3 linked regions of the Homo sapiens genome follow. The protein of the gene in region 1 interacts with the protein of each later gene in a pairwise test. Each region holds a gene or a part of one and is shown on either strand. Other genes may lie near its edges. The genes, in order: SPANXN2, KRCC1 and EPB41L3.

Region 1 (3,841 bases):
ACATCTAGAAATTTGTTCACCCCCAAATTATTCTCCTTCCCTGACAAGACCAACCTCACTGTACTTAACAAGAATTCCAGAAGTTGCCAATCCAGAACACCTTAGTCCATAACACTCTCTGTCTCCAGTTTCCAATCTTTTGTCTCCTACTTTATTTCAGATCTTTCCTGGTTTCCCTTCCCCATGACCCTGAATAGTCCAGGCCAATTTGTCACACTAATCAAGGAGATATGACTTCAGGGCACCTTCCAAAATTTCACTCCTACTCAAATCTCCTCTTTCTCCTTTTGTCCTCTCTATCTGTGGGATATTCTAAGTCCCCACCCCGAACGTCTAACAGATGAGCCCCCTTCATCAGCCTCACTGCCTCTTAAATCAGTCACACTCCCCTCTTCCTTCCAACTGTTAAATTTGTTTGTCCACACAAATCCAGTAGTTCACAGCCCTTCCTGTTAACCTGGCCACATGAACCCTGTCCAAAATAAACCTGCATTTCACCTAATTGACCAATTCATTCGCAAAACCTGCTTATAATCTTGCTCGGCTAATCACCTTTCCCCCCCCACCAATCCATCAAATCCACCCACACCGTCACACACAGGGCTGTCACCCTCCTTCACCTCATAGCCTCTTAACTAAACATGTTACCAGTCGGATTCCAGAAAATACCTCTTATCAACCCCTCCCCTTTCTGCCGGAGCCGCTCTCCATGTATCCAAGTCAAGGGCGCTCCCTGGAAAATATCCACAAACAATTCCCTCAACTGCAACCTGTATCCTTCTGCGCTGTCAGGACCGCAATGGCTATTAGTTACAAAAACCCATTTCCTGCTCTCTCTCCAAAACCAAACAGCCTTCACCTCCTCCACTACCAACATTTCCTATCAGGCCTTCAGAGGGGCTACCCTTGCTGGCAGGTATTCAACTTGGAAAAACATAAAAGTTAAAACAAAGGGTTTGTGCAGAATTCAACCCCCACCTTCTCATGACTTGCCACCATAACCTACAACTTTTGTCTGTCCACCCCTAGTGTCTTCTTCCTTTGCGGCACAAACTCTTATCTCTGCCTACTGGCCAATTGGTCAGGAACATGCACCCTTGTGTTTCAATCTAAACATTAACACTTTGCCTAACAAGCAGACCATCCAGGTTCCTTTAGTAGCTTCTGTCTCATCTTCCTCCACACACACTAAGCAGGCTGTACATCTCATTCTAGTGTTAGCAGAACTAAACATCTCTGATGCACTCAGCACTGGGATAGCAGGTGGTCCCTTTCTTAGGGCCGTTAATCTTCCTCCTCCTGATAGTACATTTGGCCGATGTATACTCACCTTCATATCCTGCTTTATCTCCCGAAGGCTAAACTCCCCTCTCCAGGCAGCCACCCAGCAACACATTGATACCATCCTTCTCCTCTGCCAAGTCCGGTACCAGTGCCTCCAGGAAAACAACTCTGAAGTCCGTCACCCCCTGCTTCAAAACCCAAACCCTGATTACAGCTCCCCTATTCGGCAGCAAGCAGCCAGATAATCAACAATGCCCCTCTTCCTTTTATACTAAAGTAGAAGGCAAGAATGTGAGTCCAAACCACCATTTAGTAAGCACCCTGCTATTTTGCAGACCTTGATCAAAGTGAAACATTCCACGGGGGTTCGGGCCATGAGAAAAATCTTGCCTAATCGTCGTAACACAAGGCGGACACAGGTCCAACTAAAGAAACTTTCCTATGGTATCTTGCTGGGCAAAGTTCCAAGAAACACCACAATGACATCCCACTGGAAAAAGGACCAAACAGCCTGATCATAAAAACATCTTATCAATATCCTGCCGGGCAGCAAGCCATACTGCCCCGGCCCCTCCCACCCATACCTATAAGCACCCCAGCCTGTAAGCGGCGGTGGGTTCTGGCATTAAGCGGGTCCCCCACTTCCACAGGTGTCTGCAGTATTCCTGTGTTGCTGTTTGAGCCGTCCCTTCTCTGTGTGTCTTTCTTTCACCCTCACCTTCCCTTCAAAACCTAACAATCTTACCTCATCATTTTTTTTGTTATTGGATTCACAGGGGCTCTTCCTCTTCTCCCCATTGGTGCTTGAAGTCGGCTGTTCCATGATTCTGCTTGGTTGTAGAATGTCTATAGTAGGCTCTTGTAGACTGCAGACTTCCACAGCTATATTGAAGCTTGCCAGGAGGATGTCCCAGAGCTCTGGCCCTCCCTATGTATACCTTCCTGGTGGCAAGGCAAAGCCACACTCTTGAGCTTTGTTTGATCATACAGGCAGTGTCCCAGCCAATGGCAGTCCTAGGGTGGCTTAGACATCACAAAGCACCACTGCTGACCACTCCCTGGGCTTGTGGGGGACGGATGACAGGGGTGTAGAGGAAACCAAATGCTGTTGTTGTTTCAGCATCCCCTGAAGATGCATCCCAAACTAATCTGCTGCTGCTCATTTCTCCATGTTTAATGTTCATGGTTCACATGGAAGTGAGAGGATGATTCCTTCAAGCCCTTCCCCACAGTCATTCCTATGAAGTCATTCATTCTTTTGTCTTCCAGCCCTCACCATGACTTAGTATTTTAGATGTCTCACCTCAAATCCCTCCAAGCTAGTGTGGCTACATTTAATTATTGGTGGAGATGTGAATTATCCCATTTCCCTCCTACAGTTCCTTCACATGCACCTTGAAGACCATTTACTTTTAGGCTACTGCCAGGCAAATTTCAACCCATGTTCTTTTACCCAATGTCCATGTAGTTCTTTTAAGTTTCCTATCTCCAATCTGAAATAATGGCCTTCAGTCTGTCAAAACTTTGGTGAATAAACTTTCTTTACCATGTATCCTAGTCTTGTTTCAAATCAGGGGTCTATGTTCATAGTAAATGTAGTATCCCAACATGAATTCTGCCAGTATGTGGGTGGGGGAAGGAGTGGATATTCAAGTGCTGGAAGTTGTTCTGAGTATTTACCTGCAGGATGCTACAATCTAAGACCCACATGTGCACCAGTATGGGCACAGTTATACTTTGTACTGGAGATTGTGTCCAGTGTAAAAGAAAAAAAAATGCATTCAGATTGGAAAGGGAGAAGTAAAAGTATCTTTTGTCAAAGACTACCTGAGAGTATATGTAGAAAAGTCAATCTAAAAAAATGGTTCTACATTAATTGAGGTTAGCAAAATTGCAAAGTAAGAGATCAACACACAAATCAATTGTATGTTTATATATTAGCAGTTACATATGAGAAGTTTCTATATTAGAAGAGACAATGTTTTAGCCAATGGTAGTCCTAGGGTGGACTGGAAGTTAATTTCAACAACTGAAAGTTGAAACTAAGAACAGTGCAATTTAAAATATCACTAAAAATATTAAAGGCTTAGGGATAAATCTGACCAAAGATGTAAATGACTTGTACACTTAAAACTACAAAAATTTACAATGATAAATTAATGACATAAGAAAAAAATTGAGATCTATACTTTGATTTTCGGTTGGAAGATTCAATATTGTAAAATGGCAGTTATTTCCAATTTCATCTGTGGATTCAACTAAATTCTAATCAAAATTCTAAAAAGCCTTTTTAATAGAAATTGACAAGATAATTATAATATTCCTATGGAAATATAAAGTGCCTAGAATAGTCAAAAGAAAAGTGTTGAATCTTAAAAAGCTCTGGATTGCATCACTGTCAATGTTCTAGTTTTGATAGTGTAATGTGGTAGTGTATTGAAGATTTTACTATTGGGAGAGACTGGTTGAAGGGTACAAAAGGCCTCCATGTACGTATCTTTGAAACTTCTTGTGAATTTATAATTGTTTCAAAATAAAAATCTAAAAATATTTTAAA
Region 2 (2,539 bases), on another chromosome or scaffold:
TTCTGAAGTTCTCATGAATTGGTTTCCTGTATATTAGTTTCTAAGAGAAGTAAAGGAACCACAGATACAGAATTTGATTTTTAAAATCTTCAGTTTACTCAAGATAAAATAAACGTACTCACCTGACGAGAGTACTGTAAGACTTAACAATAAAAGGATGTTTATAAAATTGATTGGGAATGCTGAAAATCAGAAATTCAGTTATAAGATGAAAACTACTTTTAGGTATCAGGTATGAGGGAAGATGAAAGCACAGAGTTCTGTATCTTCTGTGTAGGCTTGGATTTCATTCCACTACTTCTGATTGGTGAAAAAAGCATTCTAGAATGTCTTCTGGTTTGTTCTCTCTTAAAGTACTGGTGAGAGGAATAAGGGAAGAAACAGGGGTGAAAACTGAAAAGGGATAGGACTGATTTGGAGAAGAGTTTCAGAAGAAACTTGCAGTAGATACACCATTTTTGTTTGCTTGATTCTTTTTTGGGGGGAAGGGCAAGACTGTTCCTGATTCTTTTCCTCACCTCAAATCCTGAATAAATACAAATATAGCAGAAAATGTACTTACTATGAAATTATAATATTATATATATATAAAAAAATATATATATATATATTTTTTTTTTTGAGATGGAGTCTTGCCCTATCACCCAGGCTGGAGTTCAATGGCACGATCTCGTCTCACTGCAACCTCCGCCTCCAGGGTTCAAGTGATTCTCCTGCCTCAGCCTCCTGAGTAGTTAAGACTACAGGTGCACACCACCACGCCTGGCTAATTTTTGTATTTTTAGTAGAGATGCGGTTTCACCATGTTGGCCAGGCTGGTCTCCAACTCCTGACCTCAGGTGATCTGCCTGCCTCGGCCTCCCAAAGTGCTGGGATTACAGGTGTGAGCCACTGTGTCCCACCTGCCCTATATATTTTTGGTGATACAGTTTATCTCAAAAAATTAGGAGGGCATATATCCCATGTAGAACTGAACATTTCTTCAGCTCTCAGAAACAAGGCTTGTTTCTGCTAAAGGGAAGAAATGTTCAGTTCAACATGGGATATACTCCCTCCTAATTTTTTGAGACTAATGATCAGCCAGTTTTTCAAATTTGGAAATTTGAGGTTAAAAAGAAAATCTAAATGAAGCCTAATTTGGCAAGTTAGAAAATATAGTTCTTGTTCAACTTAAATAGTATACAAATTCTGACTAGAAAAATAATAAAAAATAATGTAACAAATACTTGCTTAAATATGGGCAAACTATTTTAACCTATACTTCAGAAAAGAATATATGCAAATGGCCAATAAGCACATGAAAAGATGTTTAAAAGCACTGATCAGCAAGTAAATGTGAATTAAAACCACAATGAGATACCACTATGCACTTACCAGAATGATTAAAATGAAAAAGATTGACAATACCAGTGCTGATAAGGATCTGGAACTCTCAAATATTGTTGATAGGAATGTAAAATGGTACAACCACTTGAAAAACAGTTTGGCAGTTTCTTAAGAAGTTAAACATACATTTACCCCATATGATGCAGTTATTCTACTTCTAGGTATTTCCTTAAAGGAAAAGGAGATACAGTCATGCACTGCATAATAATCTTTTGGTCAACAATGGACTGAATATATGATGGTGGTCCCATAAAATTATAGTGGAGCTGAAAAAGTCACAGTAATGTGAATAATGCACAATTCATTATTCATGTGTTTGTAGTGATGCTGGTATAAACGAATCTACTATACTGCCATATAAAAGTATAGCATACACTATGTACAGTACATAAGATTTGATAACTGGTTTATGATTTATTTACTATACTATATTTTAAATTATTTTAGAGTATATTCTTTCTCCTTATTAAAAAAAAAAGTTAACTGTAAAACAGCCTCAGGAAGGTCCTTCAGAAGGTATTCCAGAAGATGGCACCATAGGTGATGACAGCTCCATGCATGTTACTGCCCCTGAAGACCCCCCAGTGGGACAAGATGTGGAGGGAGAAGACAGTGATGATGATCCTGAACCCTGTGAAGGCTTAGGCTAATGTGTGTGTTTGTGTCTTAGCTTTTCATAAAAAAGTTTAACAAGTGAAAAAAAAAAATAGGGCCAGGTGTGGTGGCCCATGCCTGTAATCCCAGAACTTTGGGAGGCCAGGTGGGTGGATCACTTGAGGTCAGGAGTTCGAGACCAGCCTGGCCAATATCGTGAAACCCCGACTCTACTAAAAATACAAAAATTAGCTGGGCATGGTGGCGCATGTCTGTAATCCCAGCTGCTTGGGAGGCTGAGGCTGGAGAATCGCCTGAACCTAGGAGGCAGAGGTTGCGGTGAGCCGAGATCGTGCCACTGCACTCCAGCCTGGGCAACAGAGTGAGACTCCATCTCAAAAAAATAAAAAAATAAAAATAAAAAAAAAGTTAAGAATAAAATAGGAAAAGGCTAGGATAAAGATATAAAGAAATAAAATATTTTTGTGCAGCTGGACAATGTGTTTTAACCTAAGTGTGATTACAAAATAGTCAAAAAGTTAAAAAAATTTAAAAGTTT
Region 3 (3,741 bases), on another chromosome or scaffold:
GGCGCCGTGGCTGACGCCTGTAATCCCAGCACTTTGGGAGGCTGAGATGGGCAGATCGCAAAGTCAGGAGATCGAGACCAGCCTGGCTAACACAGTGAAACCCCGTCTCCACTAAAATACAAAAAATTAGCAAGGCGTGGTGGCGGGCGCCTGTAGTCCCAGCTCCTTGGGAGTCTGAGGCAGGAGAATGGCATGAACCTGGGAGGCGGAGCTGGCAGTGAGCCGAGATCTCGCCACTGCACTCCAGCCTGGGTGACAGAGCGAGACTCCGTCTCAAAAAAAAGAAAAAAGAAAGAAAAAAAGAAACCCAAGCATTCTGAGTCCAAGGCCAGGTTTCTTTGCTCTATGCTAAACATTTTCTTCAACCTTAGTACTATTTATTTATATTATATCTTCTTTCCAGGTTAAACGCTCATTTGACAATAGTGAAGAAGCTGGAAAGTCATTAAGACAAAAGTCGTTAAGACAGTGTGTCTCAAAATGTGGTCCTGGGACCACCTGGATCAGATTTCACCAAAGTACTTGTCGGGACATAAGGAGGTCTGGATCCAACTGCAGATCTATTAGATGATAATCCGTGGATTGGTCCCCAAAAATTCCTTTTTAATAAACTCATCAGGTAATTCTGTTGTATAACCACTGTGTCTCATTCTTTGCAAACCTCTACTGTTATCTGGAGTTTCATACTCAAAAAATTCTGCATTCTCATAGAGGGCCATCTTTTGGATTACGGGTTTTGTGGTGGAATGTCACAAAATTCTACACTCATCCTGAGGGTCATCTTTGGATCTTACAATTACTAAGACATGTCCCTAAAAACAAGCAAAGAGGACAACAGCATATACTACTGAAATGAGAAAACATGTACTATGTGTATACTCTCATTAGACTGGTTCTAGATGTCTTCAAACACAGATCTCATTTCAACCTGGAGGTAGGCAGCATCGTCATCTGTTCACTCTGGGGAACCTTGCCTAGAGAAATAGAGTACTCCTCCCACAGTTACCTAGCTCAAGGTTAGCAGATGTTTCCATCTGTATCTTCTCTAGCTCTTTGTATTTTCTTTATTCTGCAACAAGGATTCCCCACCACTGGGCCAAGGACAGTGGTGGTGAGCGGTGGGTGAGTCAGCATTACCACCTGATCTCCGCCTCCTGTCAGATCAGAAGTGGCATTTGATTCACATTCTTGAGTGAGAATGTGAGAATGTGAACCGCACACGTGAGGGATCTAGGTTGTGCATTCCTTCTGAGAATCTGATGATGTGAAGTGGAACAGTTTCTTCCTGAAACCATCCCCCACAACCCCCGTCCATGGAAAAACTGTCTTCCATGAAACCCCAACCTCTGTGCCAAGGACAGGGCCACACAGCAGGAGGTAAGCAAAATGGAGGTCCTTGGTGCTAAAAAGGTTGGGGACCCCTGTTCTACAATATAACTCCCCCCAATGAATTACTGCTCTCATTTCAAGAATTCAGAGGAAAAGTTTTCCAGACTTCTTGAGCAGACAACCTAGTCAATCTCTATTTTCCAAGTCTTATACTTAGCCAGTAAGCATATTCCTTCTAAAGTTAATAAAAGTTGTCACTGAGTAGCACAAAATGGTATAAAACACCAAAATTCATCAAGAATAATTCTCTGTAATGAAACTACCCAAAACTCCCTATATCTCTGGGATGTTAGTAACTCTAGGAAAAAATTACGTAGAAATATGCAACTGTCCGGGCCAGCCTGAGACCTCTAGATGCCCCGATGGCATCATCTCACAGAAGCCTGGGTGCACCATTCCAGCTAGCACCACCTTCAGGATCATAAAGCTATTCTCCCCAAATTGGTGAATGAAGACTGGATTCCAAGTAAATCCAAGATCAGTCAAAATCATGGGATTGTGAATAACATAACAGAGCAGCCCACATCCCTGACGAGGTGGCATAAAATCTGTGAATGGAATATGACATTTGTTACCATTCTGTTGTTGAGGACGAAGGAAGGGTTGGGAACTCAGAGAGAGATCAAAGGAAGCTTAATATTTTCCATCTCTGGGAGCCCAGTGACCCCGTACACCTACTAAACTATCCCAGACCCTGGATATTTTGATTCTGGAGAGTCTAGTTCAGGTCCAGACTGCTGCATCTGCTGTCCCTCGAGGCATGCCAAGAGGCACATGGGAGAATGATGGGCACCCAGGAACTCAGGTTAGGCTTTGCTGGATGAGCTCGCCCCTCTATAAAGAGATGACATTAAAATCTAAATTTAAAAAAGTCAGGAAATCTATGGTGAAAATTTGCTTGTTTTAGTTTGTTAGAACTCAATATTCACACACAACATTGAGATATACATAATAATCATCAGAGATTTTAATTTTTTTAAATATCCTGTTTTACCACAAGCCTCCTGATGTGTATATTAGAAGAGAGTCATGAAGTGTAGGCAGCAAGCAGAAGGAGGCAGAGGGGCTGGACAACAAGGCTTCACATCAACACCATCATTAAGGTAATGATCCTTTATCAATATTGCACAAGACCAAAAGAAAATATTTATTTACCATTAAAAATAATGATGTGGGTATAGATTTGCATGCATGAAAAAGCTCCTCCGAGACATACTGTTACATTTAAAAAAAAAAAAAATTTGGCCTGGTGCGGTGGCTCACACCTGTAATCCCAGCACTTTGGGAGGCCAAGGCGGGCAGATCATTTGAGGTCAGGATCATTCGAGACCAGCCTTGCCAACGTGGTAAAACCCCATGTCTACTAAAAATTCAAAAAAAAAAAAAATAGCTGGGCAGGGTGGCGGTTGCCTATAATCCCAGCTACTTGGGAGGCTGAGGCAGGAGACTCGCTTGAACCTGGGAGGCTCACTTGAACCCGGGAGGCAGAGGTTGCTGTGAGCTGATATCGTGCCACTGCACTCCAGCCTGGGCAACAGAGTGAGACTCTGTTCTCAAAAAACAAACAAACGAAACAAACAAACAAAAAATGGTTACATAGAAGTATTTAAGACAGAAGTCTATTCATGTAAAATATTATGTAATCTACATATGAGTCTGTATATGTACAAAATGATGCTACTGCTATTTATGAAGCACTTGTGATATACCAGATACTGTGCTCAGTGTTTGCATGTATTACATCATTTAATCCTCATATCCTTCAGATATAAGCATTATGCCCATTTTATAAACGAGCAAACAGGCTCTAGGAAGTTAAAAGAACCATGCCACATAGTTATTAAATAGCAAGGCCGAGAGCCCAACCCAGGTGTGTCCTATTCCACTCTGATACGTAATACATTCAGAAAGGTAGATAATGACATTGCCTTTTTTGGTTTTTCTGTATTGTTAGACTATATTTTAAAGTGAGAATGTATTATTTTTAATATCTCAAATAACTGAGATACATTCATTGAAAGGATAAGGAAAATCTTCCCATATTTCGTATATCTCATTTTCTACCTTAAACAATCCAAAAGTAGTATTTAATCCTCAGTTAAATACTCCCACAAAAAGATGGAATGAATTGCCAAAATATCAATCATTGAGAGAAAAAAACATCACATTCAATTTCTGCAAAATTTTGGATAACTCCATTAACTAAAGACCATCTGTCTCCAGATTCCTATTCTTCCAACTCATCCTACACTTATCACCAGAAAAAATATTCTTCTTCCCTACTCAACCACTTTCAATAACTCCCCACTACCTAGCAAAGCCCCAAATATCCCTTAGTCTCATATCCAAAAA

The links.
Region 2: the proteins of SPANXN2 (region 1) and KRCC1 interact in binary tests that used the Homo sapiens proteins (3 or more experiments, as listed by UniProt).
Region 3: the proteins of SPANXN2 (region 1) and EPB41L3 interact in binary tests that used the Homo sapiens proteins (3 or more experiments, as listed by UniProt).

The regions. Positions count from the first base shown.
Region 1 is NC_000023.11:143,718,562-143,722,402, forward strand, and holds the start of SPANXN2 (sperm protein associated with the nucleus on the X chromosome N2), read right to left. Parts: upstream 2,192-3,841; 5' UTR 2,108-2,191; coding exon 2,030-2,107; intron 1-2,029.
Region 2 is NC_000002.12:88,029,245-88,031,783, forward strand, and holds part of KRCC1 (lysine-rich coiled-coil protein 1), read right to left. Parts: intron 1-2,539.
Region 3 is NC_000018.10:5,533,888-5,537,628, forward strand, and holds part of EPB41L3 (band 4.1-like protein 3), read right to left. Parts: intron 1-3,741. UniProt on the Homo sapiens protein: Tumor suppressor that inhibits cell proliferation and promotes apoptosis. Modulates the activity of protein arginine N-methyltransferases, including PRMT3 and PRMT5.